Regions from separate parts of the Homo sapiens genome. Here regions 1, 2, 3, 4, 5 and 7 are each linked to region 6. Evidence: fine-mapped expression QTL. A gene starts in region 6. Each other region holds a variant in brackets. All regions are shown on one strand. Distances are from middle to middle. Region 1 overlaps TSNARE1 (t-SNARE domain containing 1). Region 2 overlaps TSNARE1 (t-SNARE domain containing 1). Region 3 overlaps TSNARE1 (t-SNARE domain containing 1). Region 4 overlaps TSNARE1 (t-SNARE domain containing 1). Region 5 overlaps TSNARE1 (t-SNARE domain containing 1). Region 6 holds the start of TSNARE1 (t-SNARE domain containing 1). Region 7 has its middle 23 kb from the start of ADGRB1.

What was found. PIP is the estimated chance that this variant, and not a neighbour inherited with it, causes the effect.
Region 1: its variant is fine-mapped to the expression of TSNARE1 in whole blood (INTERVAL, PIP above 0.99).
Region 2: its variant is fine-mapped to the expression of TSNARE1 in whole blood (TOPMed, PIP above 0.99).
Region 3: its variant is fine-mapped to the expression of TSNARE1 in whole blood (TOPMed, PIP above 0.99).
Region 4: its variant is fine-mapped to the expression of TSNARE1 in whole blood (TOPMed, PIP 0.93).
Region 5: its variant is fine-mapped to the expression of TSNARE1 in thyroid (GTEx, PIP 0.95). The same link has a PIP of 0.9 or more in whole blood.
Region 7: its variant is fine-mapped to the expression of TSNARE1 in whole blood (INTERVAL, PIP 0.98).

The regions. Positions count from the first base shown.
Region 1 is chr8:142,278,053-142,282,115 of GRCh38, reverse strand. The region is part of intron 11 of TSNARE1 (t-SNARE domain containing 1); the gene reads left to right. Among named protein-coding and RNA genes, the nearest start is that of LINC00051, 82 kb to the right of the region's middle. The variant C/T (reference allele first, on the strand shown) is at 2,019.
Region 2 is chr8:142,272,035-142,276,097 of GRCh38, reverse strand. TSNARE1 (t-SNARE domain containing 1) reads left to right here. Exons shown (of 14, transcript NM_145003.5): 12 at 1,235-1,317. Among named protein-coding and RNA genes, the nearest start is that of LINC00051, 76 kb to the right of the region's middle. The variant A/G (reference allele first, on the strand shown) is at 2,496.
Region 3 is chr8:142,354,783-142,358,845 of GRCh38, reverse strand. All of the region lies in intron 1 of TSNARE1 (t-SNARE domain containing 1), which reads left to right. Among named protein-coding and RNA genes, the nearest start is that of TSNARE1, 46 kb to the left of the region's middle. RefSeq lists an enhancer at 2,801-3,568. The variant T/A (reference allele first, on the strand shown) is at 1,657.
Region 4 is chr8:142,304,000-142,308,062 of GRCh38, reverse strand. The region is part of intron 9 of TSNARE1 (t-SNARE domain containing 1); the gene reads left to right. Among named protein-coding and RNA genes, the nearest start is that of TSNARE1, 97 kb to the left of the region's middle. RefSeq lists an enhancer at 3,522-3,611. The variant C/T (reference allele first, on the strand shown) is at 2,355.
Region 5 is chr8:142,312,714-142,316,776 of GRCh38, reverse strand. It overlaps TSNARE1 (t-SNARE domain containing 1), which reads left to right. Exons shown (of 14, transcript NM_145003.5): 8 at 1,685-1,774; 9 at 2,337-2,393. Among named protein-coding and RNA genes, the nearest start is that of TSNARE1, 88 kb to the left of the region's middle. The variant G/A (reference allele first, on the strand shown) is at 2,104.
Region 6 is chr8:142,401,617-142,405,679 of GRCh38, reverse strand. TSNARE1 (t-SNARE domain containing 1) reads left to right here and starts at 2,498. Exons shown (of 14, transcript NM_145003.5): 1 at 2,498-2,576. RefSeq lists silencers at 1,600-1,649, 2,090-2,659, 2,800-2,939 and an enhancer at 1,593-2,368.
Region 7 is chr8:142,424,726-142,428,788 of GRCh38, reverse strand. No RefSeq gene overlaps it. Among named protein-coding and RNA genes, the nearest start is that of ADGRB1, 23 kb to the left of the region's middle. RefSeq lists an enhancer at 850-1,624. The variant T/C (reference allele first, on the strand shown) is at 2,376.

The DNA of each region.
Region 1 (4,063 bases), 120 kb after region 6:
CCTCCCAGCCAGCACCGTGGGCCCTCAGCTCTGCGTTCCTCTGGAAAAGGAAGTGAAGCAGCAGGGGTGCCCGGGTGCCTAGAGTCAGGTCCTACCTTAGCGCCAGGCTGTATGTGGGGGCAGGAAGTGGGAGGCCCACAGTCTTGTCCCTTGCCTCTGAGTCCCCAGGAGAAGCCCTACCCTTTTGCTGCTGGAGGCCACCCATCAAGGACCTGACAGGCGAGAGGTCAGGATGAAGGGGCTGAGCTTGGAGCCAGGGAGGCTGGAGGCTCCGTTCAGGAAACCTCACCTGGGGCAAGGGAGGGGCCTTCCCAGATGGGACAGAGGTCACAGTGCCCAGTGACCCCGCCCAGGCCCACCGACTCCCCAGCGCCCCCACCCGCCTTGGTTGCTCACCCACCCTGGGCCACAGCCCTTCCTCTATGGGGTTGCCCTTGGCTTCCCTAGAGAGGTCCTCACCATGAGGTCTAAAAGCTCTGGGTCCCCTTAACCCTGACCCTAACCCTGGGGTGACTGTGTCCAGTTCTGACTCCATGCGCTGTGGCCTCCTCTGCTTGTGGAGAGCCAGAGTCTCTCATGTCCTCTTCCCACTGTAGTCACACAGCAGCCCTGGCCTGCCTGTGCGGCCCCCAACCATGGTGGGGCTCCAGGTTTGCAGGGGGCTTTTGAGGGGATGCTGACCTTGCCCCCCTCCCACAGGGACCCCATCCCTGCTGTGTTTTGGTGTCTTTCCCGCTCCCACTGGAGGGCTCTGACCCATTCATCCCGCCCTGTCTATACCTGCTGCTGCCAGGAGCCCTGGCTCCCAGGCCAGTGGGGCAGAGGCTCCTGGCTCTGGCTGGGTGTCTCTTTTCCTCAGTTGAGGAAGAGCCAGGCTGCCCCTGGTGCCCACGGGCCTTTGGTTAAAGCGCTCAGCTGCCCACCAGCACTCTCAGGCTCCACCCCACCCACTCATTCTCCCTCCATGCCCTGACTGAGCTGTGGCCTCACCTTGGGGCCTGTGCCGAGAACAGCCTCCTGGTCCCTCCTGCTCTGACAACTGGCAGTGTGTCCGGAGACCCTCAGGCAGCTGGCGTCCTCTTCCCGGGTACTGTGCTGTGTCCCCAGGAGAAGAGTGACTGCGGCTCAAGCACCCTGCTGCTCCCTGGGGCGGGGCTGGGCCAGGCCGGCCCCTCAATCCCCTCGGAGCCTGGGCTTCAAGCTGCTCTGTGGCCCCCTCCAGCTGCTCTGTGGCCCCATACAGGGCCTGCTGGGCTGCCCCATCACTCCCTTACCACCTCCTCTCCCCAGGACCCCTCCTATCGCTCTGTCCTCCCCCCTTCTCCCCACTGTCAGCTTCCAGAGGTGGCTGTAGCCATTTCTGCCCCTGGCCACCTGTCGCGGGCTGGGATGTGCTGAGTCTGTGGAGCGCTTTGTCCACTTCAGGTGCCCACCCAGTCCCAGTGACAGATTGATCAGTCCCAGTGAAGGACTGATCACGAGGGGCACTCATGCCAGCAGTTCAGGGAAGGGAGCAGTCGTGGGGAGGGGGACAAACCAGGGCTGACCCACCACACGTGGTCAGGGCTCCGGGGAGGGCAGAGGGCACCTGCCGGGTGGACAGGCGGGAGGCCCAGAGAGTAGCTGAGACAGAAGGGCCCCTGTATAGTGGATGTAGGCTGCCTATGCTGGGTGCCGATGCGAGGCCTGGCCGCTGTGCACAGATGCAGGGCCTGTGATGACCTGTGACCCCGAACCTGGCTGCTCTCCCCAGGGTCTCTGCCCCCTGCTCAGCCTCTGGTGCCTTTCCAGGGTCCAGCAGCAGCAAAGCCATCTGCCAGCAGAGCTGCAGCCCCGAGCCGGCCGCGGCAGCCCTGCTGCTGGGTGCCGGGCCGGGCTCCACACCCCTGCGGCCGGGCCCCCACTCCCGCACCAAGACACGCAAGCCCAACTTCAGCCCCCAGGAGACGGAGGTGCTGGTGCAGAGGGTGCGGCGCCACTACCCGCTGCTGTTCGGGGCGCTGCGGGGCACACCTGCC[C/T]GAAAGCACCGCGTGTGGAGCCGCATCCTGCAGGCAGTGAACGCGCTGGGCTACTGCCGCCGCGACCTGGGGGACCTCAAGCACAAGTGGCGGGACCTGCGAGGTGCTGTGCGCAAGAAGCTGGCGGAGGGCGGCCCCGCCCCCGGCCTCCTCCTCACACCTGTGGAGCGCATGGTGGCAGAGACCTTTTCTGCCCACGGTCCCCAAGGCGAGGGCCAGACCACGGAGCCCCTGCCAAGTAAGTGGGCCTTCCCCACAGCCCGCCCCCCCGGACCACACTGCCCTGGGGCAAGCAGGGCCGGCGAGTGGGCTTGAGCCTTCTGCACCAGCTCCCAAGAGGGAGACCCTCCGAGGGAGACCCAGAGGCCCATGGAGATGGCCCGCCACCCTCCTGGCCCATCTCTTCTTTTAGGTGGGGAAACCAAGGGTCGGGGCCAGGGAGGGTTCTGCCTGTCTCGGTAGTGGAAGGGCTGCGGTTCCAGCTCAGGGTCCTCCCTGCATTGCCAAGCATTGTGCCATCAAGGGGCTCGACCATATACGCCACCTCAAGCCGTGCCCACCGGGTGTCCAGATGGGATGCTGGGTCCTAGTCACTGTAGAGAGGTGAGCGCTACCGTGGGGAGGCGGTCACAAGGTGGCCTCTGGGACCAGTGCCTGGTGAGGGGCAGAGACAAGGCCTGAGCTCCCCGACGTGCAGCAGCAGCGGGTGCAGCCCAGGGTGCCCTGGTGCCCTCCAAGGCCCCCATCTTGGCCTCTGCCGTTCCCGCCTGGTGTCGTGTGGCCGGAGGCCTGTTTGGCCCCGGGTCCCGGCCTGGCCTTCCTCTCCACGGGCAGCCCTCCCCTTCCAGATGCAGTCCAGCGGTGAGCACGGCTGTCCTTAGGCAGCCAGGTCTTCCAAACCAGTGGGTCCCAGCAGGGAGAAGTCCCTACTTTCCCATGCAGGGCAGCAGGGCCCAGCTGGCCCCAGGGTCTGAAGACAGGGGTGTCTGGGAAGAAGGAGGGCTTCCCTCCGCTCTCCCCCAGCCCCAGAGCCCCAGCGTACAGCTACCATGAGAAGGCAAGGCCAGCCAGCAGGTGGGAGGAGCCTCAGCCCATATGCACCTCCAGCCAGCTGGCCCTTGACATAGCTCCCAGGGAGCAGCAGGTGACCTGTCCATTCATTGGTCACGTTGAGGAGTTTGGGCAGAGCCAGGGAGGAGCCTGGGCCCCAGCTTGACTCTTCCCCGCCCCACGCTGTGCCTCACTCTGGCCTGCAGTGGCCTCCCCCTCCTTCTGCAGGCCCCTCCCTCTGGGCCCACTTGGAAGCCCCACACGTGGTGCTGTCCGGTGACTCTCAGCCTGTCAGGCACGCTGTGCCCCCTTCCGAGCCCACGGGCCCACTCCAGGGACCACCGGAAGCCAGGCGTTTCTGTCTGGTCAGGCCTCGTCTGCAGCCCGCAGCTGCCACTGGCTCCAAGGGTGACGCTGGCTCTGAGGGTGATGCTGGCTCCGTGCTTCCTCCTGCCGCCTCCGTGCCTCCTCCCACCGCACCTCCTCTCCTCCTCAAGACACCGTGCCAGGAGCTCCTTCGCCGTCCTCCGCATATGGTGGCACACCCTTCGAAGCAGAGCCCCGCTGGACCCTCCCCTTCCTGGGAGCTGCTGGAAGGACTTTGGGAACGAAGCCCCGGAAGCAGGACCAGCTCCTTGAGGGCCACAGAGTGGACAGAAGGACCCAGCCTCACAGGACAGGCAGGGGCTGGCCTCAAACGCCCCCAGTGGCAGCCATGGCAGAACTTGGAGCGCTGGGGCATCCTCAGCTGCTCCTGCTCACAGCGGTGCATGAGGCTGGGACCCATGGGCAGAGTGGGCCGGACTGGTTGGGAGACGCATGTAGACCCAGCCAACCCTGTGGCTGGGCTTGGACAAGGGGCCTGGGCTGTGGGCCTTGGGCGATGGGCCTGGGCACTAGGCCTTGTGGTGGGGCTTGGGGGATGGGCCTGGTCAGTGGGCCTCCTGATGGGGTGGGGCTGGAGGAGGATCTGGGTCCTCTCAGGCCTGTGCAGG
Region 2 (4,063 bases), 130 kb after region 6:
GCGGCTCCACTAGGGCCCTGCGCTGGGGGCAAGGGTGGGGTGGAGCTGGTGACCAAGGGTTCAAGGATCCCTGTGAGGCCTGGGTGGGGGCTTCTGAAGGCAGGGCTCATGGGTTCCACCTCCTGCCCAGGGGGCTTGCAGAGATGGGGCCACAGTTCCCTGATGAGAGTAGGGAGTCCTTGCTGGGACGGTGGGGAGTGGCCTTGTCTTTCTGAGGACCCTCCTCCCTCAGAGCCAGTCGTGCCAGGCTGTGCCTGGCAGCAGTCCCTGTGGTTGTAATGGCCTCTCTATCCCAGGCCTTAAGACCCCTGAGGCTCAAGTCAGCTCAGGTCTGTGCCCTGGTAGGCACTGCAGGTGCACAGTTTGTTTAGATACTCCTGCCTCCCAAGCTCTTCTCCAGTTGCCTGATTGGAGGCAGGCCTTGCAAGGAACCTCCCTCCGGGAAGAAGGCTTGCCCGTGCTCGTGTTTGCTCGTGTTTGCATGTGGCTCTGTTGAGGACCCCGGCTGTGCCTGCGCTCCTGGTGCCCAGGTGGCATGTGTCCTTCCTTTGGGTGGAAGACAATGCTGAGCATGGAATCTTCCGGATCCCTGGGGCTGCCCCGGCCCTGGTCTGGTGTCTCCCGTGGGCCCTGCTGATGTGGCTTCCCTGGGTGGCACTGCTGCAGCCACCGAGCCCGGCTTTTCCCAGGTACCATCTCCCGTGATCCCCGCACGGCAGCACAACTTTCTGATCAGCTCCCTGTGCTTGAGTCGAGGGCCAGTGCGTGTGGCAAACCAGAGCCCTGTGCTTGCAGACCCGGTCTCCATCAGCCGCGTCGCAACTCCACAGACGTTAAGGCAGGGGCTTTGCCCCTTCAGAGGGGGCCGTGGCCACAGAGTGGAGGGGCTGGCCCAGGCAAGGTCATGACAGAGCAGGACTTGACCCCAGCCCTCACCTCCGCCTGCCACTCCCACCCTTTCCTGAGTGGACTCTTCCTGCCCCACCTGGTGTGGGCACTGAGGAGTCCCCTTCCCTGGGCCACCTCCAGGCCTCCGTTCTAATGTCATTGCTGCCCACTGCCCACACCACGCGGAGCCCTCGGCACGTCTGGCAGCCCAGCGCCCATCCCTGCAGCCTCTGCTCCTCTGCAGGCCCTGGGCTCAGGCTCCCTGGGCTTGCCTTTGGGGGGTGTCCTCAGGGCGGGGGCGGCTGGGCCTCCATCTGTAATTGCCTTCTGTTGTCTTGATTTGCAGATAGTATTGAAGCCAGCCTTGAGGCTGCGTCCTCGCATGCGGAGGCAGCCCGCCAGCTCCTGGCTGGAGCCAGCCGGCACCAAGTAAGTCCGTGTGAGGGCCACAGTGCCCGGCCGGCCCGGCCTCCGTCCCCTATCCTCCAACCCTCCCTCCGTCTGTCTGGAGGGGCCCAGGCCCTGCCCTGTGCCTGGGAGGGGCATGCCCACAGGCCTCCTCTGAACCAGTCTGCTGCCCGTGCCCTAGGGCTCTGGGAGTGGCGGGGTTGCGGCAGCAGTGGTCTGCGTGGTGCCCACAGCGGTCGGCACCGTCTCCTCTCTTGTATGCACCACGCCGCCCTCTCCCATGGATCCGGGGTGCAGCCGAGGGGAGGGCCCTTGGGGCCTTCCCGCTCCACCTCCTGTGCCAGATGCTGACATGCAGCTCAGTGTCCATACTGGGGCGGGGAACTGCAGAGGGGACTTTGTGGTTGGGGCAGGTCAGTGGCTCAGAGGGAACAAGAAAGCTCAGGCCTTTATTTTCTTGAAGTGGGACTTGGAGCTACCTTGAGGACTAGCCACTCACTGGGCCTTGTTGCTGACTTGTGGTCACCACAAGAAGACCTGACAGGTCAGGCTGGCTGGAGACTGTGGCCCAGCTGAGATGGAGGCCCAGCCGCTGTCTTCCCCTCACTGGCTCTGTCCCCATTGTGGCCTGGTGCTCCCCACTGGCCCTGACGGGCAGAGATGACCAGAGCCTGTTCCTCAAGGAGTCCCAGGGGCCAGGCAGGCTGGACATTAAGTCCAGCAAGGTGAGGGTGGCATGGGCCACGGTGGGAGCGCAGAAGAAGCCCCTGGGCCAGCTGGGGCCAGGAGAGCACACACTCTTGAGGGCGGAGCAGGGGCAGTATTGGCAGACGAGATGGTGCAGTGGGTGTGAGGCCAGGGTCCAGGAGCAGCCAGACGAGCCCAGGACATCACAGGCAGGTGTGACGAGAGAGGAGCCACATCCCCAGGACGCTGGGATATCACAGCTGTGCCCGCAGAGGGTCCTCAGTTGCCTCAGGGGTGCAAGAGGAAAAGGGGGCCGCAGCTGGAACCACGCAGGGGCCTGACTGGGTGGAGAATGAGGGAAAGGCCAGGGCTGCCTTGAGCTTCCCCAGTGGGACCCAGCCCGGGCACCCCCACTGTGGGAGTGTGTGGTAACGGGGAGGCTGATCCCAGTTTGGGCCTCCCCATTTCTGTCGGGGGCCATGAGACTCAGAAGGTTCAGGTCACCAAGGGTC[A/G]GTCCCTGTTGACAGCTGGTGAACGCCAGGCCGGGAGACAAGACCTGGGAGAGGCTGTGCCAAGGTCACCTGCAGGATGAGGTCAGAGGCAAGGCTGGGGCTGGGTCTCCTGGCGCCAGCTCTGGGCTGTTTGGCCTCAGCCCTTGGCCCAGCACCTCTAGTCGCTGAGGGCAGCTAGGCCCAGGGGCCTCCAGGAGGCAGAAGGTGATGGGCAGAAGGTGACGCCTGGTGACGGGCAAGGTGGACTCGCTGGAAACTCAGGGCCACACCACGCAGAAGGCCTTGTTTCAAGAGGAAAGCCAGCCAGCAAGATGACCCCTCCTGAGCACCCTGGGATCACCTGGTCAGAAGCAGCGCTGATGCCTGGGACGGCAGGAGGACGATGGGACAGTGAGGAAGAGGAGGAGGTGAAGGAGGAGGAGGAAAGGAGGGCAGTGGCAACTGGGCCAGCCACCTGTGCCATGGACGCCGTGCCGCATTCCCAGTGAGCCTGTGGGCTCAGTCCTGGCAGAGCAGGCACCGCCCCCCCGACACACTGCAGAGGAGGTGGGCAAGGCTCAGGCCCAGGAGGCGGCCGTGAAGTCACCTCTGCATAGACTGTCCCACTCCTGTTCCCGAGGGGGTCCACCAGGGAGTATCAGGGAGGGATGAGGCATCTGTGAAGTTGCCTCTGCATAGAATGTCCTGCTCCCACCTGCCTGCGAGGGGCCTTCCCCACGGTGTCAGGAGGGTTGAGGCATCTGTGAAGTTGCCTCTGCATAGAATGTCCTGTTCCCGCCTGCGAGGGGCCCTCCCCACGGTGTGTCAGGAGGGACCAGGTGTCTGTGAAGTCGCCTCTGCGTAGAATGTCCTGCTCCTACCTGCAAGGGGCCCTCCCCACGGTGTGTCAGGAGGGATGAGGCCTCTGTGAAGTCGCCTCTGCATAGAATGTCCTGCTCCCGCTTGCGAGGGGCCTCTAGATGGGCGGGTGGATGGATGGAAGGAGGAAGGTGTAGATGGGTGGGTGGATGGAAGGAGGAAGGTGTAGACGGGTGGGTGGATGGAAGGAAGGTGTAGACAGGTGGGTAGATGGAAGGAGGAAGCTGTAGACGGGTGGTGGATGGATGGAAGAAGGAAGGTGTAGACGGGCAGTTGGATGGGTGGATGGAAGGAGGAAGGTGTAGACAGGCGGGTGGATAGGTGGATGGAAGGAGGAAGGTGTAGATGGGCGGGTGGATGGATGGAAGGAGGAAGGTGTAGACGGGTGGGTGGATGGAAAGAGGAAGGTGTAGACGGGCGGGTGGATGGGTAGATGGAGGAAGGTGTAGATGGGCGGGTGGCTAGGTGGAAGGAGGAAGGTGTAGACGGGCAGGTGGATGGGTAGATGGAAGGAGGAAGGAGTAGATGGGTGAGTGGCTGGGTGGATGGACAGACAGCATGGATAAATGGGTGAGTAGACGGATGGATGGATGAATAGAAGGAAGAGGAGGTTGGAAGGGGTTGGCTGGACAGTGATGAACAGACAGGTGGACAGATGAGTGGATGTGGTGGGCGTGTCTATGTGGAGGAATAGACACTTGGGTAGCAGG
Region 3 (4,063 bases), 47 kb after region 6:
GGGGGGTTTGGGTTGGTACAGCTCAGTACCCCATGGCCCCTTGTGGTCTCCCAGCGATGGGGGGGTTGCACCCACTGGATTCCAGGTGTCCCCAGGGGCCCAGAGTGGCTTGCTGGGCGGGGCCGTGAATAGGCAGAAGACATGTGCTGCCATTTCGTGTTTCCAGACTGGCCTCCTCTGCCTGCGGTGACTCGGTGGCCCTGACCGTGGGTTAGCCTTTGTCCCTGAGCTGGCTGAGCAAACACAGAGGTGTTTCATGTTTCCATATGCAGCGAAATGAAATTGTGAGTTTGGTCAGGTGGTCTCTTTGGTGGCGGTGGAGCAGCTCACAAATCTTCACTCCCCTCCATGTGCCTGGCCGGAGCAGAGGGGAGTTGGGCAGCCTTCCAGTCCCCCCAGGGGCCCCAGCTCTGATTCAGCTCAGCTCTTTCAGACTTGAATCCCTTCCCTCCTCCCATGAGCGTTCCTACCTCTCATGAGCCCTCCTCAAGCTTCCTGTGCTCCTCCTTGTCCTGAAACCTAGCAGACCCTGCCGCCCTTTGCAGTGATGGCCGCTGGCTGCTCCCCTTGTCCTGAAACCCAGCAGACCCCGCCGCCCTTTGCAGTGATGGCCGCTGGCTGCTCCCCTTGTCCTGAAACCCAGCAGACCCCGCCGCCCTTTGCAGTGATGGCCGCTGGCTGTTCCCCTTGTCCTGAAACCCAGCAGACCCTGCCGCCCTTTGCAGTGATGGCCGCTGGCTGTTCCCCTTGTCCTGAAACCCAGCAGACCCCGCCGCCCTTTGCAGTGATGGCCGCTGGCTGCTCCCCTTGTCCTGAAACCCAGCAGACCCCGCCGCCCTTTGCAGTGATGGCCGCTGGCTGCTCCCCTTGTCCTGAAACCCAGCAGACCCCGCCGCCCTTTGCAGTGATGGCCGCTGGCCGCCCCCTCCTCTCATGGAGCCTCCGCCGTGGCTTTCGTGGCCTCTGGTTAACATCCCCCTGACTCGTCCCCATCTCCTGTGTTGTCTGTGGGGCCCTCTCCTCTCTCCGTGGTGGCTTCTCTCCCTGGGAGTTCTCTTCCTTAACAACTGTCCCTACACAGTGGACTCGCGTTCTGCATGTAGCCCCACCTCCAGGGCTTTGGGTATCTGCCTGCCTGTGCCAGCCCCTCTGGGCTCATCCCTGCACACGGCTCCCCTCACTTTCTGGCACGAGGAAGTCAAAGCACTGTCCGTGTGCCTTCTGGGCCAGAACTTAGGACTTGTCCTTGACTCTCCCTGGGTTCCGTGCCAATCCCTAGCTCCACCCTCCTCCCTCCCGGGCCCTGGTTCCTGCCGCCACCTGCTCACTGCCCTGCCAGCCCCTCACGTGCCCCCAGCAGCTTGCTCCCAATCCTGAAGTAGAGGGAGCTCCCCAAACACAAGTCTTGTGTCAGGCCTGGCTGGCCCCACCAGCGCCCCACCATCATTTGAGGTGATGGCAAGTAGTGCCCTGTGCTCAGAGCCCCCTTGAGCCGCTTCCTTGGGACTGCTGGACCCTCCCCACCTGGGGTTTGAGTGCCCCTCCCCGAGTTCTCTGAAAGCCTGTGCAGCAGCCCTCACCCAAGACGGCTTGTGCTCTTGAGGTCTCACGGGGCGTGAGGGGCCCCTAACCAGCTCGAGTGAGCTCTGGCTGGGA[T/A]CAGTGTGAATGCTGTTCCTGACGATTCTCTTCCCCTGGCCCTCCTGTCCTTCTTTCTGGAACTCTCCTTCCTCGGATGGAGAAGTGCCTGTGCAGGGCTGGTGGTTTCCTCTGACTCTGCGGTGTCTTCGTGCTCTGGTTTCTGGAGGCCCCCGCTCTGCCTGCCCCTTCTCTGGAGCTCTTTGCTGCTGCTCCCAATGTTGGCTTCTCGGTGCTCCTCTGTGTTCTCTGAAAGTCCCTTTCTTGGCGTCCCCCCTTCCTGTCCTGGGGCTGTTAACACAGCCTTTGTTATCTGAGCTCGTTCCTTTGAGGGCAGTACAGAGAACTCAGGTGTTGGAACCAGACTGCCCGAGCCTGAAACCTTCTCCACCACTTAGCAGCTGGGGGACCTTGGGCAAGTTACCTCACCTCTCCATGCCTCAGTTTCCTCAGCTGCAAGGTAAAGATGCTTGTGGCCCCAGCTTAGAGGGTTGTGAGGATGAATCTGCGCGTGTAGTAAAGCGCCTCTGTGATTGTCGTCACGCGCCAAGTGTTAAGGAAGTGCTAGCTGCTATGCTGTTACGTGTTAAAGTTTTCTCTCTGGATAGTGTCTGTTTCCTCCACGCTGTGTTTCCCCCATGTGTCTTGGGCTGTCTTCCACATCTGAGCTTTTCCCGATGAGGCCCCGGCACATGTGCAGAGCTCTCTGCTCGCTGCGTTGAGACCTGCCTCTCACTCGGGGCTCCTGGAATCCCACCCGCTCTCAGAGCCCACTCTCCCCTGGGGCAGCAGACATCTCCTGCCTCCTACTGAGACCTAACTTCCTGCCCACCTCCCCATTCCAGGCAGCGTGCAGAGAGGGGAGGGAGGCCATGGCGACTGGGCAGGTACCTGGGATGCGAGGCCTGAGACCTGTGGAGAGAGGGGCTGAGGACCACTCTCCCTGCTGCCTCTCTGCGTGGGGCCGGGTGTTTTCGTGCGCCCTGGGCAGAACAAGGCCTGCGCCAGCAGCAGGTGTGAGTCCAGCTGTCCTGCTGGGCCTGCCCGGAGGGTGCCACGACTGTAGGACGGCACCGCTGTCTCTGAGGGGTTTTGTTTTGGAAAATGCAGTGGTTTTTAATAAAGATGTTATCTGTGTTCACAGTAAGAGCTTTGTTATTTAAAATGAGTTACTACTATTTCAGAAGCCTCCGTTTGAGTTTCTAATGCAGTGGATGTTAGTAGGTGCGATCCGCAGCAACCAGAGCTGTTTGGGTCCCGATTGTTCTGAGCAGGGCAGTGGGGCCCACTGGGTCGATGGTGTCCTGGTGCTGCCCTGCTCTGGGCAGGGCTGGATGGCACAGGCGGGTGTCTTGCTCAGAGGGAACGTGGGGTCACACCGCCTTCCCCGGCCCTAGGGACTTGGGTCTGTACTCAGCTGGCGTGAGGCTCACTTTGCTCTGAAACCTGCCTTCGCACTTCAGGTGTTTGTGTGGGCGGGTGGAGCCCTTGCCCTGAGGTGTTTAGAACTTAAGGTGTGGCCTGGCCAGCAGGTTCCGTAGTGATAGCATTAGGGTGTAGGCCAGTCAGAAGCTGCCCGCACAGGGACCCCTGCACACAGGGAGGACGCTCTGGCAGTGTCTGGGCAGGAGAGCTCCCGTTATCCTCTGGTCATTTGCTCTGAGTCCCTGGAGCTGCAGCCCACGGGAGGAGAGGTTTGGGCGGGATGCCCAGCTCCCCATTCCAGGGACGGCCGGTGCCCCAAGGGTGGCGCCACTCCCATGAGTTATGTGTTGAGTGCTTACTGTTTGCCAACCATAATGTGTGTCTGATTGCATCTCACAACAGCCCTAAGACGCAGGTCCTCTTCTTCCCCTTACTTCACAGATGAGGAAACTGAGGCCCAGAGAGGCCCCATGGCTCTTGCCAGCTGCACAGGTTTCATTCAGCCAGGGCAGAGCCAACCCCGGGCCTGACCCAGCCCCACTACCGTGGAGTGCGGCTCAAGACGATGGAGCTAGAGATGCCGGCAGGCTGCATGGGTGCCGGGTTCTCAGCCCGGCCTGGGCCTGACTCACATGCAGTGGATGCTGCCCTGCCTGCATGGCGGGGGCCCAGCGCTCCCAGAAGCCACCTGGGAGGCTGGCGGTGGGGGTTGGTCTTTAAGAGCCGGCCAGAGGGCTCACCTTGCTGGGGGTCCCTCTTGGGAGGGGAGGGGGCACACCTTCCTCAGGCTGTGTTTCTGTGTTCCTGCAGGGACCAGTGGACCAAGAGGCCACCTTGAAGGGGCTCTGTGGGGGGGTTGCTGTTTGGGGGCTGGTGAGAAGCCTGGAGTAGCCTAGGGAATGGGTACAATGGAGCCAGGGTCTTGGGGCTGGGGAGGGGCCGGCGGCCCCTGTGCACCCTGAATTGGAGCTTTAATCCCCATGTCTTCCCCCTCTTCCCCCTG
Region 4 (4,063 bases), 98 kb after region 6:
GACAGCAGCTTTCCACAGGCACCTCACAGAAGAGGATTCCGGTTGGCTCATAAGCCTGTGATTGTGTACTTGGCAACACGAGTTATCAGAAAAATGGCAAAGAAACCCATGATGGTAAATCACCACACACCACACCCACACAAATAACTAGAGCAAACATGAGTGAAAACCTCTGCAAAAGCCGGGCGTGGGCTGCGTGCAGGCGGTTGCACTCTCATGCCTTTACTGGTGGGGTGTGCCTTTGCATCACCACTTTGGAACACTGTTCGAGAATATCAAGTTCAGCATTTTCTGACCTAGGATCTTGCAGTTCTGCCCAACAGACATGCATATTCAGTTGGCCCTTCGTATCCATGAGTTTCACATCCATGGATTCCACCACTCAGACTGAAAATATTTTTAAAAGATGGCAGCTGTTCTGAACATGGACAGCCTCTTCTTTTCTTGTCATCATTTCCAAAACAATACGGCAGAACAACTATGCTATTTACTACATAGCATTTACATCATATTAAATATTATAGGCAACCTAGAGGTGATTTAAATATATGGGAGGATGTGCGTAGGTTGTATGAAAATACCAAGTCATTTTATATCAGGGACTTGCGCACCCACAGATTCTGGTATCTGTGGAAGTCCTCGGCCACTCCCCCGTGGAGACAGGACAACTGTGTGTTGACAGAAGTCACATGGGAGAATGCTCATAGCAGCCCCCACGCAGTGACACAACCTGGAACACCGCCCAGTCTGACCAGCACAGAAAAGCAGCACCTGCTGAATTCATGCCACGGGGGACTCCACAGCAGCCAAAAGAGTGAGCTGTGGCCACCACGCCCACTGGTGATGTCTCGGACATAACGCTGAGTCCAAGCTGAATTCATGCCACTGGGGACTCTACAGCAGCCAAAAGAGTGAGCTGTGGCTACTGTATGATCAGTGGCCCCACCAGTGATGCCTCGGACATAACGCTGAGTCCAAGAAGCCTGAGACCCAAGGGGATAGACTGTGGGATTCCATTTCTGTAGTATTCAGAACCAGGCCCCACTGGTGGACAGTGTTAGAAGTTGGAACTGGGTTCTCCTCTGTTGGGGGCCTGGGATGACAGGTGCTGGAGGGAGGCCCCGGGGGTCCTGACCAGTGTCCTGTGTCTTGGCTGGGATGTGTTTCCTTTGTGAGCAGTCATAGAGCTATATCCTTTGCACCTGGCATTGAAACACAGATGTATTGCCTTTCGGTAGAATTTTCTTTTAAAAAGGTGGGGAGTGGCCAGTAGTGCTTCTGAGAAATCATGGAAGGTTAGATTATTTCTAGGAATTTGCAAACTATAAATGATGAGATGATATGCAACCCTGTTCAACAAAAGGACTGTTGCCAAGTTGATGCTAGGCTGATGTGGGGGGACTGGGGGGCTGCTACTCACAGGCCGGGCAGCCCTGGCAGGTGCGAGGGGCACTTGCTGCCTTCCCCGTCTCTTGCCTGTCTCCCCTGGGTGTGGGGTGAGCAGCTCAGCCTGTGTGGAGTTGGCGATCCTGGCTGTGGTCCGTAGTTTTCAGCTGGGTCGAGGGTCAGTCTCAGACCCAGCTTGGGCTCAGCCAGTGAGCAGCATCCCAGTCCCTGGGGCAGCATCAGGGCAATGGCCCCAGTGGCAGGTCATGCTCTGTCTCTGCCGTCACTGGCCACCTCAGCCTACATTTCCACCAGGACTTCGTGTGTCCCCAGCCGGGCTGCAGAAGTGAAGACCTGCTTCACTCTCACGGGCTGGCTGGAAATTGCCTAGACACGCCTCCATGTTTGAGGCACAGGGCTGGAGGTCGCCCCTTGTCTCTGGGTCCATTTCCCTTTGATTTAACGTGGGGCTGGGGGAAGCATTGCCACAGCCGTGTCCGTCCTGATGTTCTGGGCTTTGCCTCCAGAGACTCCACCAGTGAATAAATAGAGTCTGTTGCTGCTTGGAGGAAACAGTGAGCTATCTGGGGCTCCTGAAAAGACACCACCACTCCCTGTGTGAGCGCCTCTTGCCCTGGCCCCTGCCCTCCCTCGGGTCGGAGTGCATGAGAAAGTGGTCTCCTTCCCAGAGCCTTGGAGAGCCCTGAGCGCCGGCCTCGGGTCCCTGCTTTCTGAATGCCTGGCAGAGCGGAGTCTCTTCCCACGGGAAACCGTGTGTGCCCTGTCTCCAGCACTCACGTTAGAGCATGTCTCTTCCCTACGTGTCGGAACAGGGACCCAGGCCCTGAGCCCTGTGGGGAGGAGAAAGCCGCCTTTGTCTGTCTGCCTCTTGAGCTGGAAAACTATCACAGGGCCGTCCCCTCTGCGCTTGCCCCAGCACCTTGCCAGCAAATCCCTAATCCCAGCCT[C/T]GGAGCTCAAGACCCAAATTGGGCCTTTGTGGGGAGAATAAAGGAGCGCTTTGTGAGCCTTTCAGGAGGAGGCCGCGGAGGGACCCGGGCGTCTAAGCCATCTCTTCCTCCCCTGGCTTTTGTCCTGCACTGCTGGGGAGAGCGGCACCAGGCCCCCGATCCTCCCGCTGTGGAGGTGAGGGAGACCGAGCACCTGCGGGGTCTCCTCTGGCCCGCACCCCAGCCCTGCCGCCTTCCTGGGTGTCCACACGGCTCGCATCCCAGTGTGACTGCCTTCCTGGGTGTCCACACAGCCCGCACCCCAGCCTGGCCGCTTTCCTGGGCGTCCACACGGAACCCCGTTTGCACCCCCCTCCCACCCCTGCGCCCTCCCCTATCCTCCTGAGCTTCCCCTTCTCCACATGCAGGAGGTGGCATCAATCCCAAGGCACAGATCCGAGGCAGGTCTCCATGGGTGCCTGGCACCCTCTGCCCACAGCTCCTGGGGAGCTGTCACTGAAACCCCCAAGTCCAGGGAACATCGCACAGAACGTCCTGTGGTGCCTTCTCCACCTGGCCATCTCACTCGCCCGCATTAGCTGCCCTGGAGGATTTCATCGTGGGAGGGAGCACATTTCCTCCAGCCCCCTCGCCTGTGGCTGTTTGCTGTCAGGGCCGAGGGCAGGCTCCTACATCTCCGTCCTCGGGCACACCAGCCGGGCTGCCCCGGGGACCTCTTACCTCAAAAGTTTGTTATGTTTACCTGGGGGCTTTGACTTTACCCAGGCCACGGGACCCCAGTCAGTGGGGCTGTTGTAGGGCCTGTCACCGCTGGCAGGAGGAGGCTGTGCTCAACCGTCATGCCGCTCTCCAGGGGCGTGTATGGCCATGTCCCCCCTGGGAGGAACGTCTCTACCCCGTAGCTCACAGCGTTGGGAAAAGCACAGCTCAACCTGGTTTCCCACCTGAGTCCGGAAGGTGGCATCTCATGGCATCTCTGCTGTATGCTGCAGCCTTGCATGCCTCAGCTCGAGCTCTCCAGGCGACACTAGGACGTGCTGAGGTCAGCTCCATCCCCTGGAAGTGAAAGCTGGAGGCTCAGGGAAGCTGAGGACCCTCCCCAGGCCCACACAGGAAGTGAAGGGCAGTGTTCCTGAGCCCTCACACCTTAGGAGAGCCTCGTGCTCGGGTTCCTGGTGGAGTGAGGTGCACAGCTGCTGTGCTCTGCAGACATGAGGGGTCAGACCGTGTGGGTGGAGCTTGAGGGGCATAGACCACGGGGCTGTGAGTGCCGCTGCTCCCATTCTACAGATGAGGACAGTGAGGCCCAGAGAAGGGCGTGGCATGCCTGGGGCCTCACAGCCGGCACCACTGCTGGGCCGGAACCTGAGCCCAGGCTCTTTCTGCAAGAGCCCCGGAAGCCTAGGGGCTGGAGCCGTAGGAAGGAGGCGTTGGGGTTGCTGGGCTTGGCGCGAGGCCAGCGCCTCCCTGGGCTCCCACCGCCAGGCACTGCTCACTTCCTCCCGCCCACTCCAGGAAGGGGAGGTGATAATTACCACCTTGGACGAGTTGCGCTTGTCAACAGATTTTTTAGATCTTTTATTTTATATTCATCTATCCACATATTTATTTATTTAAAGGCTTCTGCTAGCTTCTACCCGTGTCAGGGTGGTGTGTAGGAAGAAGCTGGCTTGGGAAGGAGAACCTGGCTAGGGCAGCCTCACCATCCC
Region 5 (4,063 bases), 89 kb after region 6:
CATGCCCCCACGCAAGAAAACGCACAGTGTATGGTTCTGTTTGTGTGAAACATCCAGAAAATGCAATCTGTGGAGACCAGAAGTCGATGAGCAGTTGTCAGGGTTGGGAGCAGGGCTTGGTTTTGGGGTGCCTGCAGGCAAGGCGCAGGGCCCTTTCTGGGGTGATGGGCATGTTCTAAAACTGGGTTGTGGGGATGGCTGTACAACTAAGAGTTACTGAACTCTACACTTAAAGCGGGTAGATTTTATCAGATCTAAATTAGACAGTAATAAAACTTGTACTTAAAAAAGTAGAGTCAGTTCAAAAGTTAGTTACACTAAAAAACTGTAACAGAGGCAGCAGTCCCCTGTCCAGTGATGGGGTGGCCAGAGTCTCCCTAAAGGCAGATGACAGGAACACTGGGAGCTTTGTGCTGAGCGGCCTGGAGCCTTTCCATGCATGGGTCACTCCTCATAGCCATGGCTGCCCTGCGGGGACCACTCTGTGGGGACCAGGTGCTGCCCTGGCCTGTGCCCTCGGGCAGTGATGTCAGCAGCGTCATGACCAGCATCGACGCCTGTGTCTGACCTCTTCCTCTGTAGCTTTGTTCTCCATTCTCTGACTCAGGTGTGCCTGAGTCACTTATTCATTTACTCCTTCATCCAAGAATACACGCTGGGTCCCTCTTACGGGAGGCGCTGCGCTTACGTGAGGTGCTGAGCAAGGCCCCACATGGTGGAGGGTTGCGATTCTGAGAGGCGTTTCTGTGGGGTGAGAGCAGAGTTGGGTGGTCCGTGCAGGCAGTTTCCTCGTGAAGCGAATGGCTCCTTCACGCGGCTTGGTGGGTGCACGGTCAGTGCCTACCACGTCTTTGACTCTGTGGGCCGTGGACGCTTTGATGAGATGTAGTGCCTTCGATTGTGGGAAGAGGTCAAGGCTGTGGTAGGCTGCTCCCAGTGCCCCTCGGCTGTCAGAGGTTTACCCCAGACCAGCCCGCCTTAGCCTTGGCTCTCTCCAATCCTCCGATAGCCATGGGGTGGGTGCTGGGAGGAAGCTGTGGGCTCCTTGGTGCTGCTGCTGGTGGGTGGTGTCCACGGTGAGCCAGAGCAATGAGGCGGGCCCCAGGGCTGCGTGTCCAGCCCCACCCCGGCTCCGTGCGTGTCCAGCCCCACCCCGGCTCCGTGCTTCTCCAGCTCCAGCTCTGAAGCAGGTGCCTGGTGGGCACTGAGGTGTGGTGGCGAACATCCCAGCAGGAAGGAACTGGGGTTGGTGGACCCTGGAGGCCACGGGGAGCCCAGATACAGGCGAGATGCTGGGGAGGGGGATGGTTCTGGCAGTGGCCCCACCACCTATGTGACCACAGACAAGTCACTCGGGACTCAGGGCCACGACGTCCTGCGCTGTGGAAGAGGAGTCACAGTGCTGCTCGCGGAGGTGGTGTGGGGCCGGGTTTATGTGCCTTGGGTAGCTCCTGGCTCCGGCAGGTGGTGTTGACCCCTGCACCGGATTTTGTGGTGATGGTGTCCCTGGGGACCCTGGGTGTGCCTGTGGAGACGACGGTGACACGGAGGGGAAGTAGTTGATGGCGAGCCCCATTCTGAGTGTGGGAAGGTGGGACATCGGTACGGGAGGAGGTGTGGGTGGTGGGGGCTGCTGGGGCAGGGCCAAGCCTCCCATGCCGTGCCAGCTGTACCTTCTCTGCAGCAGGAGCGTCTGCAGCAGGAGCGTCCTCAGCTGGACCGGCTGAAAACCCAGCTCTCAGATGCCATTCAGTGCTATGGAGTGGTGCAGAAGGTGAGGTGCTGGTGGGGGCAGTGGGGGTCTGCAGGCCAGGTGGGGTCGGCCTCGGTTCCCGGAGCACTGTCATGGCTGTCTTGTCCCTGTGGGCCTGGTGCAGCCCCATCCCCAAAGGCAGAGAAGAGGGTTGTTCTTGCAGACAGTCTCTAGGCAGCCAGGATCCAGACTGTGCCTCAGGGCATGTGTCCTAGAGGACATTTACCTTCAAGAGCTGACCCACAGTAGCTCTGGGGAAGCAGGAAGAACAAGTCTCACCCTGCTCTGACAGGTGAGGAAACTGGGGCCCAGAGAGCTCCCACGCGTGGACAGAGGCCATCCAGCGACTC[G/A]CTGGCAGAGCTCAGCCCCGGCCCTGGCAGCCTCTTCTGGGAGTGGCATGGACAGAGGCCATCCAGCGAGTCGCTGGCAGAGCTCAGCCCCGGCCCCGGCAGCCTCTTCTGGGAGTGGCAGGCGTGTTTTGCTGCACCGTCGTCCAGAGCCCTGCACTCAGCTGACCATTTCTTCTCCCTTCCCCACCCTTTTTGCTCTTCCTGTCTTTCTTCTCTTGTCCTTTTTTCAACAGAAAATTGCAGAAAAGTCCAGAGCGCTGCTTCCCATGGCGCAGAGGGGCAGTAAACAGGTGGGTGCCGAGTACTGACCATGGTCAGTGGCTGTTAGGGGACAGCCCAGAATCCGCTGCCATCTGTGCTCCATGGAAGGGCGGGGAGGGCCAAGGGCAGGGGTGTCATCTGAGGGGCGCCCTGAGGCACAGCCTTGAAAACGTGGGCATTTTGACCTTTGGGCCCTGGCACAGTGCCTGACAAGGGCTCAGCTCCCAAAGAATGACTGCGGACGGTGCCATGTGCTGGGCAGGACTCACAGGTCAGACCAGCTCTCCTGCTGAGAGCCACTGTGAAACCTGGGTGAAAACACACACACACACGTGGCCGGGCGCGGTGGCTCACGCCTGGAGTCCCAGCACTGTGGGAGGCCGAGGTGGGCGGATCACCTGAGGTCAGGGGTTCAAGATCAGCCTGGCCAACATGGAGACAACCCATCTCTACTAAAAATACAAAAATTAGCTAGGCGTGGTGGCGAGCACCTGTCATCCCAGCTACATGGGAGGCTGAGGCAGGAGAATTGCTTGAATCCAGGAGGCAGGGCCGAGGTTCCAGTGAGCCGAGATCACGCCACTGCATTCCAGCCTGGGCGACAGAGTGAGATTCTGTCTCAAAAACAAAAACAAAAACAAAAAACACAGGCACATGCATACAGAAAAATGCACACATAGATGCACACAGACATGCAGACACACAGATAAACACAGATGCACAGAGATAAACACACAGAGACACAGACACACAGAGACTTGCAGAGACAGAGCTAGAGACACACAGATACACAGAGACATACAGATAAACACACATAGAGACACATGCAGATAAACACAGATGCGCAGACACATGCAGGTAAACAGACATGCAGACCCATGCAGATAAACACAGACATGTAGACACATGCAGATAAACACACAGAGACACAGATAAACACAGACATGCAGACACATGCAGATAAACAGACATGTAGACAACATGCAGATAAACACACAGACACATAAACACAGACACGCAGACACATAGACATGCAGACACATACAGATAAAGAGACATGTAGAGACACACAGATAAACACACAGAGACACAGACATGCAGACACAGATAAACACAGACACATGCAGATAAACAGACATGCAGACCAATGCAGATAAACACAGACATCTAGACACATGCAGATAAACACAGACACGCAGACACGTGCAGATAAACACAGACATGTAGACATGCAGATAAACACACAGAGACACAGATAGACATGCAGACACACATGCAGATAAATGCAGACACACGGATAAACAGTCACGCAGACATGAAGAGATGCAGATAAACACAGACACACAGACACATGCAGATAAACACAGACATGTAGACACATGCAGATAGACACCCAGAGACACACAGATAGATGCAGACATGCAGACACACATGGATCCAACATGGGGGAAACATCGGAGCAGCTGGGAGCCAAGCCTAGAGAGGCACGCATTCCCAGATCACTCAGGCTCATCATCACTGCCTTCTCACCCCCAGGACATTTGCCAGCTTGTGTCTCAGCTTATTGAGACTGAACAGCAGTGGTGGCTTATAGCTTTAGTGGTCTTACTGGGCTGGAGAGGCAAAAATTAGAGTTCAGGACCCTTAGGAATAAAACCCTAGAGCACAAGGGGATTGCAGCACTCGGTCCGTTTTCCCC
Region 6 (4,063 bases):
CACGACAAAGCCATAGGTTGACACTGACCTGGAAATTCAGCTTAAACCCTGAGAAGTCCATGCTACTATTCAGAGAGGGAGCATTTCTGAGGTTGGCTTTAGTGGGTGCTGCCTCAACGTTCCTTCCGAAGGCCTTGGAACCACCCCCTAACCTTGTTGCCCACATTCCCTCTGGGACCTGGAATGGTAGATCCAATTTGGGGGGTGCCAGCTGAGGACCAGGCAACCCCCACCCCCTTAGGTAACAGAACTCAGCGTCCTGGGGCCAATCCCACTTATTCACCCTGTTGGTCTCACTGGTTGGCCAAGGGGTGGGACCAGAGTTCTTCCCAGGGAGTCCTGCTTCTCTGGAGGAAGGAGGGAGCCCAGAGCTGCCCGAGGTCATGTGATGACCTCTTCCAGGGAGGGGCAGAGATGAGGGAAGGGAGGGGAGCCCCGGCCCTAGGCCCAGGCAGCTATTGGCTATTTCCCTCATCCCTTCCTGAGGACCCCTTAGCATCCTCCTCCCCCTCCCCATCGGCTCAGCCTGAGGGAGTGGGCTCCTGGCTCTTCCACGGAGAGGTTTACCTTCCCTGACTTGCTGTGGGGCACTCAGGCGGGCTCATCCCAGATTTCGGAGGAGCCAACAGGTACGGAGCCCCTCCTCTGGTGGTTCCTACCCACGCTAGACCATTCCCCCTGCAGTGTCCAGGCACAGAAACAGCCCCATATACGCCTTGTATGGTCAAGAAAGCGGCTCCTGGAGGTGGTCTGCCCTGGGAGGAAAGGGCTTCACTTTCCCCTCCTTTGCACACCTGAACACGGAGCTGTCAGAGGAGGCTGAGTGAGGTGGCGGCCAGACAGACAGCGCCAGCCACGGAAGGGGAGGTGGGCACCGTGCCAGGCACCCGGCATCCTCAGTCCAGACTGACAGCTCTCAGACAGGCATTGGTCCTGGCGAACCTTCCCCTTCAAGTGGAAGCTGGGGGGTCAGCAGTCATGGGCATCCTCCCTGGTTAGGAGCCGGCTTCCCTGCACTCTAGCTGTCCTAGCCGAAGAGTGAAGCCCTGTCCAAATCATGGCGAGGCTGCAAGACAGGCACACACTACTGCCTCCTGGGAGCCCAGGGGAGACTGAAATACACCAAGGCAAGGAGCGTGGGTGGGCCCAGGACAGGCCGGCCTGAGCACCAGCCCAGGAATGCTGGTGGGCATGTGCCCCTCTTCCCTCCCACCCATGTGTGCACACATTTGTGCCATATACTACCGTTCCCATGTTTGCGCCTGGGCACACACTTGTGCCAGCATACACACACTTGTGCACTTGCACCTGGTGTCCAGGAACACTCCCTCAGCTCACAGACGTGCGCTGTGTGCACACAGTACCACGCAGTGTCCACGAGCACACTTTTGTGTTCGTGTTCACAGAACCCGTGTGCGCACACATGCACAGTCCTGGGCTGCAGAGAACCCCAGCCAGCGGGGCGGTGGGGGAAGGGGAGGGCACGCCTCCTTCCCAGGAGCTCAGCAAGGCTGTCCGCGGGAGCCCAGGGCTGCCCGCAGGGCTTTGGCGTAGGCCTCGCAAGCACAGCAAGCATCACAGAGTGAGGGCGGCGGGAGAACCTCCGCTTGCCGGAGAAGGTGCAGCGGACTCATCACTCTTGCTCTCCTGCCTTGGGTGTGACTCTTGGTTCACCTCTGGGGAAACAGGCTGAAAGGTGACCCTGGCGGCCCAAGGACACACACCCATTGTCCGCAGGTTCCTCCCAGGTGTCTTCTCCAGCAGGTCACCGGGAGAGCGAGGGGCTGGAGTCTTTCGGGAGCTCAGTGCCCGCAGGCAGAGCAGGGAAAGGGAGGCGCCCCAGGCCCCTGCGGAAGGAGGTCCCAGGAGGGTCTCCGCAAGGGGCTCCCTACTCTGCACTTCAGCTCCTCCAGGGAGGGGCTGCGACCTCGGGCAAAGGTCCCTCAGATGTCTTGAGACTCAGTTTCCTCGTTGGTGACACTGGGAGTCCGGAGTCCCCGCGGGGCCTGCCAGCCCCCGGCCGAGCACGGCCCCACGCGGAGCCCGTGCAGCCTGACTTGGGGCCCAACGCCCGTCCCCGCAGCGCGAGACGCGCAGGTGCCCGGCCCTGCCCTGGCCGAGACCCGCCGCCTGCGCAGCCCCGCAGAAGCTCCAGCTTTGGCCCGTGTGAGGTCCGGGCTCGGCCTGGGCTGGGCGGAGCCCGCTCCCGAAGCGCCTCAGCGCCGGGCCGCCGCCCTCCACGTGACCTCCACCTTCGCCGTCATCCCCATATGCAAAACGGGGAAACGGGGAAACGGAGGCCCACCACCAGGCAAGTGAGGACAGCCGACTCGCGCGCGCACCCGCAGAGGCCTCTTGGCCCAGCCGACCGCCGTCCGCGCCGCTTCCGGCTCCGCGCCGGGGCCTCTGGGGCGGGTAGTCCCCGCGCGCGTCCGGGACCGGCGGCCATTGGCTGGTGCGGGAGGGGGCGCGCACGCCGGCGGCGGGAGGGGCCGTCACGTGATGTTTGGGTGCCCGCCCCGCCCGCCTCGCCCGCCGTGAGCGCCCGGAGCGGTCCGCGAGCCACCGAGGCCCAGGTGAGGCGGCGGCGGTGGGGCTGGGGCCTGGCCGGGGCCGGGCGTGGGGCGGCGAGGGCGAGGCGGCCGGGGACCAGCGCGGGGCCCGGAGCCCGGCGGGGGCCGCGGCGTGGCGTGGTATGGGGCTTGCGGGAGGCCGGGCGGGGGGCGGGGCCGCGCCGGTGGGGAGGGGAGGGGGCGGGACCGTGCCGGGGGTGGACCCCAGGGGCGCCAGGGACCCTGAGCCGCAGCCCCGCGAGAGCGCCGCATTTCGGGGACCGGCCCGCGGGCACATGAGCCCCTCGGCGGGTCCTCGCGCGCTGTTCAGACCCCAGGTCGGTGGGCTCTGGGCCGGGCAGCCGGTGCCTGCGCCTGGAGGTCAGTGCCGTCCCGGGGAGCGCCCCAGCGCCTACTTGCTGGGTGCAAGGGTTGGTGCCCTGCAGCTCAACGAGCGGAGCCCGCCTTCGAGCCTGAGCTGGGGACCCCGTTCCTGTGTGCTTGCCTCTCCATGCCTTTCTGTCCCTTCTCCAAGTTGTAAGAAGGTGCTTCCTGGGTACTGGGGCCTGCGACATCCCCACCAGGGACTTTCAGGTGATGTTGATCTGTGCTGCCCCCGCAGAAACTCTCCAGGGACCTCGTGTTTGTTGCCTCATGGCGCACTCCTCCTGCTCTGGAAGCTCTGCCATGTCCAGTGTGGTAGCCCCTAGGCATGTGTGGCTGTTTACATTGTCCTTAACGTGAAGGATTCAGGTCCTCCGTGCCAGTGGTCACATGTCCGACACTCAGTAGCCACACGTGTCTGGTGGCGGCTGTGTGGGGCAGCGCGGGTAGGGAACACTGCTTATCACAGGAAGTTCTGTGAGCGGTGTGGTGCGGCTCAAAATGGGCCTCGCGCGTGCTGCTCCGCCGGTGCTTCTCCGCCCCTCATCCTGCCAGGTGCCTTTCCAGCCACACCTGGCGCCCTTTCTTTCCTCTGCTGCACACTTGCCTCTTCTTTTAGTTCCTGGCTCGCTCCTGGCTTGGGGGCAGCTCCGCTTCCGGTATGTCTGAGCTCACCTTTCTGACCGCTCTCCCTACAGTATTTCTTGTTTGTCATTGTCACTCATCTGCTTGTTTTCTGTTTTATCTTTAGTGCCTGTGAGACAGGGGTGGGGATTGTTGCTTAGGATACTCCCAGTGTGGACACAGTATTGAGTTGAAAGAAAGCTGAAGTTTGTTAGTACTGGAGTGCTTCCCCCGACTGAACCGCTGCTTTCATACCGTTCGACCCCATACATCACAGGACCGCAGCAGAAATCTGGTAGAACAAATGTTTGGACACAGCAGCACAGGCCGTGAATGCAGGTGGCTGTGGGAGGCTGGCAAATCCAAGACGACTTCCTGGAGGAGGTTGAGTTTTGGCTGGGTCACCTCTGTTTCTCTCCTCCTCTGCTGGCCTGGCCCCATGAACATCTGGCAGCCTCTGGCTGCTCTGACTCTATCCAGGAACCTTCCCTGGACACTTCCCC
Region 7 (4,063 bases), 23 kb before region 6:
AGCCCACTGGCAGGACGGGCGGGGGGCTGGGAAGCCTTGTGGCCCACGACGTGACTCAGCCTGAGATGCCTGCCGGTGACTGCAGAACACTGCCTGCCAGATTAAATTAGGCGCCTCAACATTAAAAATATATATTTATTTTAACTGGTTGGGGTGTTTGGAAGGAGATGAAAGGGAGGGGAGATGAAGAATTACAAATGAGATAATTAAGGAAGCAGAGAGGAGCGCGTGCCGAAATGGGAGTGAGGAGGTGAATTGTGAATTCCCCGCGCTGCACCAATTTAGAGGGTAGAAAAAGGAGTTAGAAGCAAAGAGGAAAAAATAAATAAACAGGCAACAAAAACCCAACCCAGCCAGCCTGAGCCATTTGCATTAGTGTTCATTTAGGAAATTAGCAGACGGGAAACGCTGGGGAGTGGAGTGGGCCCCGGCCTTGGGGACTGCAGAGCCCGCTCAGCCCTGGGTGGCTGGGCCCACATGGGCTGTGCCCCAGGAGCACAGGAGGACCCAGAGGGTGGCCGAGGGAGCCTCGCCGGGCTCCGGTATGGGTCCTGGCCCCTCACAGGTGCGAGCCTGGCCCAGTGACTGTGGACGCTGTGGGAGAGCAGGCCTCCGATACGCAGGGCTGGGACTGCTGACCTGGAAGGTGGTGCCGGGCGTGTCTGGTGAAGGCGCCGTTGGCAGCTAGAGAGAGACGGCGGATGGGGTGACGCCATTACCCACGGTCCCAGTTTTGAGGCTTGACGGTGACGGAAAAGGACGTCGGTGCTGGCCACGGCTGCTGTGGAGGTGGTGCTGAAGCTGATGGGGGTGGCACGAGGTTTGTCAGGAGGACAGTGAAGACGCTGTGCCGATGGAGTGTGCCCAGAAAGACGGCGAGGGGGCCGTCAGGAGGGGCAGCCCTGGTGCTGGTGTTGGCAGGTGACGAGAATCACAGAGGTGCCGTGGAGAAAGGGAGCGAGGATCTTCCCCGAGGCAGGGCGGGCTCCAATCCCAGCTCCAACCCTGAAAAGCCCTGGGCCAGTCCCCACAGTCAAGCCCTGGGCCAGTCCCCACAGTCACGGTCACGCGCGTACAGCCAGAATATCCCACGTGGGAAGAACCGAGGGCCTGGGGGTGGGAGGGAAAGCAGGCTCCGTGCTGAGGCAGGCTGGCAGTGACGCAGGTGGAGGTGGCTGAGAGAGGACAGACGACGCAGGTAATGACGGAGGAGGCGTCCCTCCACAGGGCCAGGCTCGCCATGGGCCTGGGCAGAAGGCACTGTTGGATCCAGCCGCTAACATGGGTAGGTCCACAGCTCAGAGCCCAGATCCTTGGCCAGGATCTGTGGGGGCCCAGGGCATGCCACCAAGGCTATGATGAGGATGTACTCGTACACACACAGACTCTGTGTGTGTAAGGAACGCAATCTCAGCACACGCCCACGTGCACGCCCTCCAGTGCCACATCCCAGCCTGCACTCCCTGCAGTGTCTGGAGTGTGTCAGGCAGGCGATGTGGGTCACGAACGGGCTTGTGTAACTCATTGTAACTCATCCCCCCGGGCTGACCTCCGTAGTACCAGAGGTCGCTGGTGACTTGCTGGCCCCAGATTTAGAGGGTGTGAAGAACAGCAGCTCCCCAAATCCTGAAGAGGTGGAGAAGGTTGTTTTCCCAAAAATAAAAGGAATAAAAGACACAGGCTGTCTCCTGCCCCATCCCTGTCCCTGGCCTGGAGGAATGGAGGCCACATGGGCGGAGGCCGGTGAGCCGTGCTTGGAACTTGCTGATCTGAGACATTCCACACCTTCCCTCCCTTCAGCCACCACGTGCCCCCAAGCATGGTACCTCACCAGCACCAACGGCAGCGAGGGTCTGCACCAGGTTGGTTGGCACAGACATTGGGATTGTGGGACAAAGGAAATCTGGGAGAGGAGGGGGCTTGGCTCTCTGAGACTCCCGTGAAACTGAGGTCCCGCTGGGCCCCAGGGAGGAGCCCCCTGCTCTCTCCCAGAGCAGAGATCTGGAGCTTGCCAACCACCTCCCCAGCACTCCCCTGGGCTTCAGCCACACCAGCCCCTCTACCCGCCTACCCACCAACCCCAGCTCTGAAGCCTGACCACCTGAGGATGTGCAAATCTCCCTGCCTACTGAAGTCTTTAGTCTTTGGTTGGGAATCCAGGTAGGGGTGAAAAGGGGAGGCCCATCCTGCAGAGGGGGAAGGGTGTGGTGCTGGGTTGGCCTGGGGACTGGTTCAAGTCCTGCACAGCCTGAGGCATGGGGGACCCAGAGCTGGATTCCTGACCTCTGCCCCCAGCCATAGCTAAACCCAAGGCTGGCGGGGGCCTGGCAAGCTCTGCTACGGATGGCCGAGGAGGGCATGGCCCTCTCTTGTGG[T/C]GTCAGCTGGTCTCCCTCAGGTCTGGCTGGACCCTGGCTCACCCCACGCCCCTTGCACTTCTGCCTCCACTAAATCTGTATGGAGAGTAGGGCATATTGGCGTGTGCCTGTATGCACACCCTCATGTGTATATGTGTGCACCACGTGTATACATGGGTGGGTACATGCATGTGCACACATGTTCAAGTGTACACGTGCAGCTTTGCGCATGCTCCTCGTGTGTGTAGGAGCATACAACATGCAGACACTCTGCGTACATGTGTGCACCCACTTGTATATACAGAATGCATATGCAAGTGCACACGTGTGTGTGCGTGGACATGATATGAGCATAAGGGCACGTGCACATGTACACCACACGCACATGGTGTACACATGGGTGTACAGGGCATGTGAATACACACATGGGGTGCAGGCATGTGCACCGGCATGTAAACACAGAGGTGCACACAGAGCCCATGTGTATATGCAAGTGCACATGTTTGTGTATCCTGTGTGCATGTGGTCAGAGGAAGGCAGCCCTGGGAAAGCTGGGAGGTGCGGTAACTAAATCTGAAGGGTACAGAGAGGCCATGCCATGCTTTCCACAGTTCCAGGGAAGGTGTGAGGTGCTCCCTGAGAATTTTAAATTGGGCCAAATGGAGCCTGGCAAAGGGCCCTGGGGTTGGGACCCAGGGGCTGCCAGGTTATCAGTCCAGGGGGTACCAGCTCTCCTCCTGGTCTGAGGACCTGTCCCCCATGCCCTCACCCACAGTATGGAGCACCCTTCCCTCCTTTCTCCCAGTGGGGCTCCTCCTCTAGGAAGTCTGCCTGGGTTCCCCAGGCTCACAGGCCAGCTGAAACACATGACTCTCCCACTGTATGTGTTGGGAAGTTTTCAGTGGCCTGTAACAGAAAACCCATAACAGAAAACCCAACTCAAGCTGGCTGAAACCACATGCAAGCAGATGGTGGATGGTGGATTAGCCTAAGCAAATGGAAAACCTGATGCTGTTGCGGGTTTTGGATGAAGCGTGATGGGGCCGCAGCTCTGCTCCTCTGACTCTCCATACTTTGCTTCTTTCCGACGTGTTGACTTGGCCTTCACGATGGCTCACTCCACGGAGCAGGATGACGTCAGCGTCTCTGGCCCTCAACTGCATCCCACACTGTTCCTCCTCATCTCTGTCTTATACCTCATGGTCCAAGGTGACTGCTGGAGCTCCAGCTGTCACACTCACCTTCTGTCCATCAGGAAGGAGCAGAGGAGAAGAGCGGCCTACACTGCTCTTTAAGGGTACTTCCTGGAGGTTGCACACATCACTTCCTATGCATCCCATCGGTCAGAAATTAGTCAGGCTGTGAAGTGAAGTCTTTATTCTGGCAACTACTCACCCAGCTTAAGACCCAGGATTCTATTCCCCAGGGGCCACTGGCAGCTCATGCTACAGATGCCACCTCCTAGGAATGTTTGGACTATTAGAGGCCAGATCACCCAGCACAGGGCCCACCCTTGGTGGTCAGCGTTTCCCATGGCTGCCTCCTGGGGGCCGTGGACTCTGAGATGACCCATACACTGTCCTACTCACAGTCAACCCACCGTCTGGTCGGGGGAGACAAACCTCGGACCCAGGGCAGGGGGTGGCCGCAGAGATGGAGAAATGCAGAGGGAGCTGTGGGATCCCTTCTTCAGATACTCCGGGCAGGAA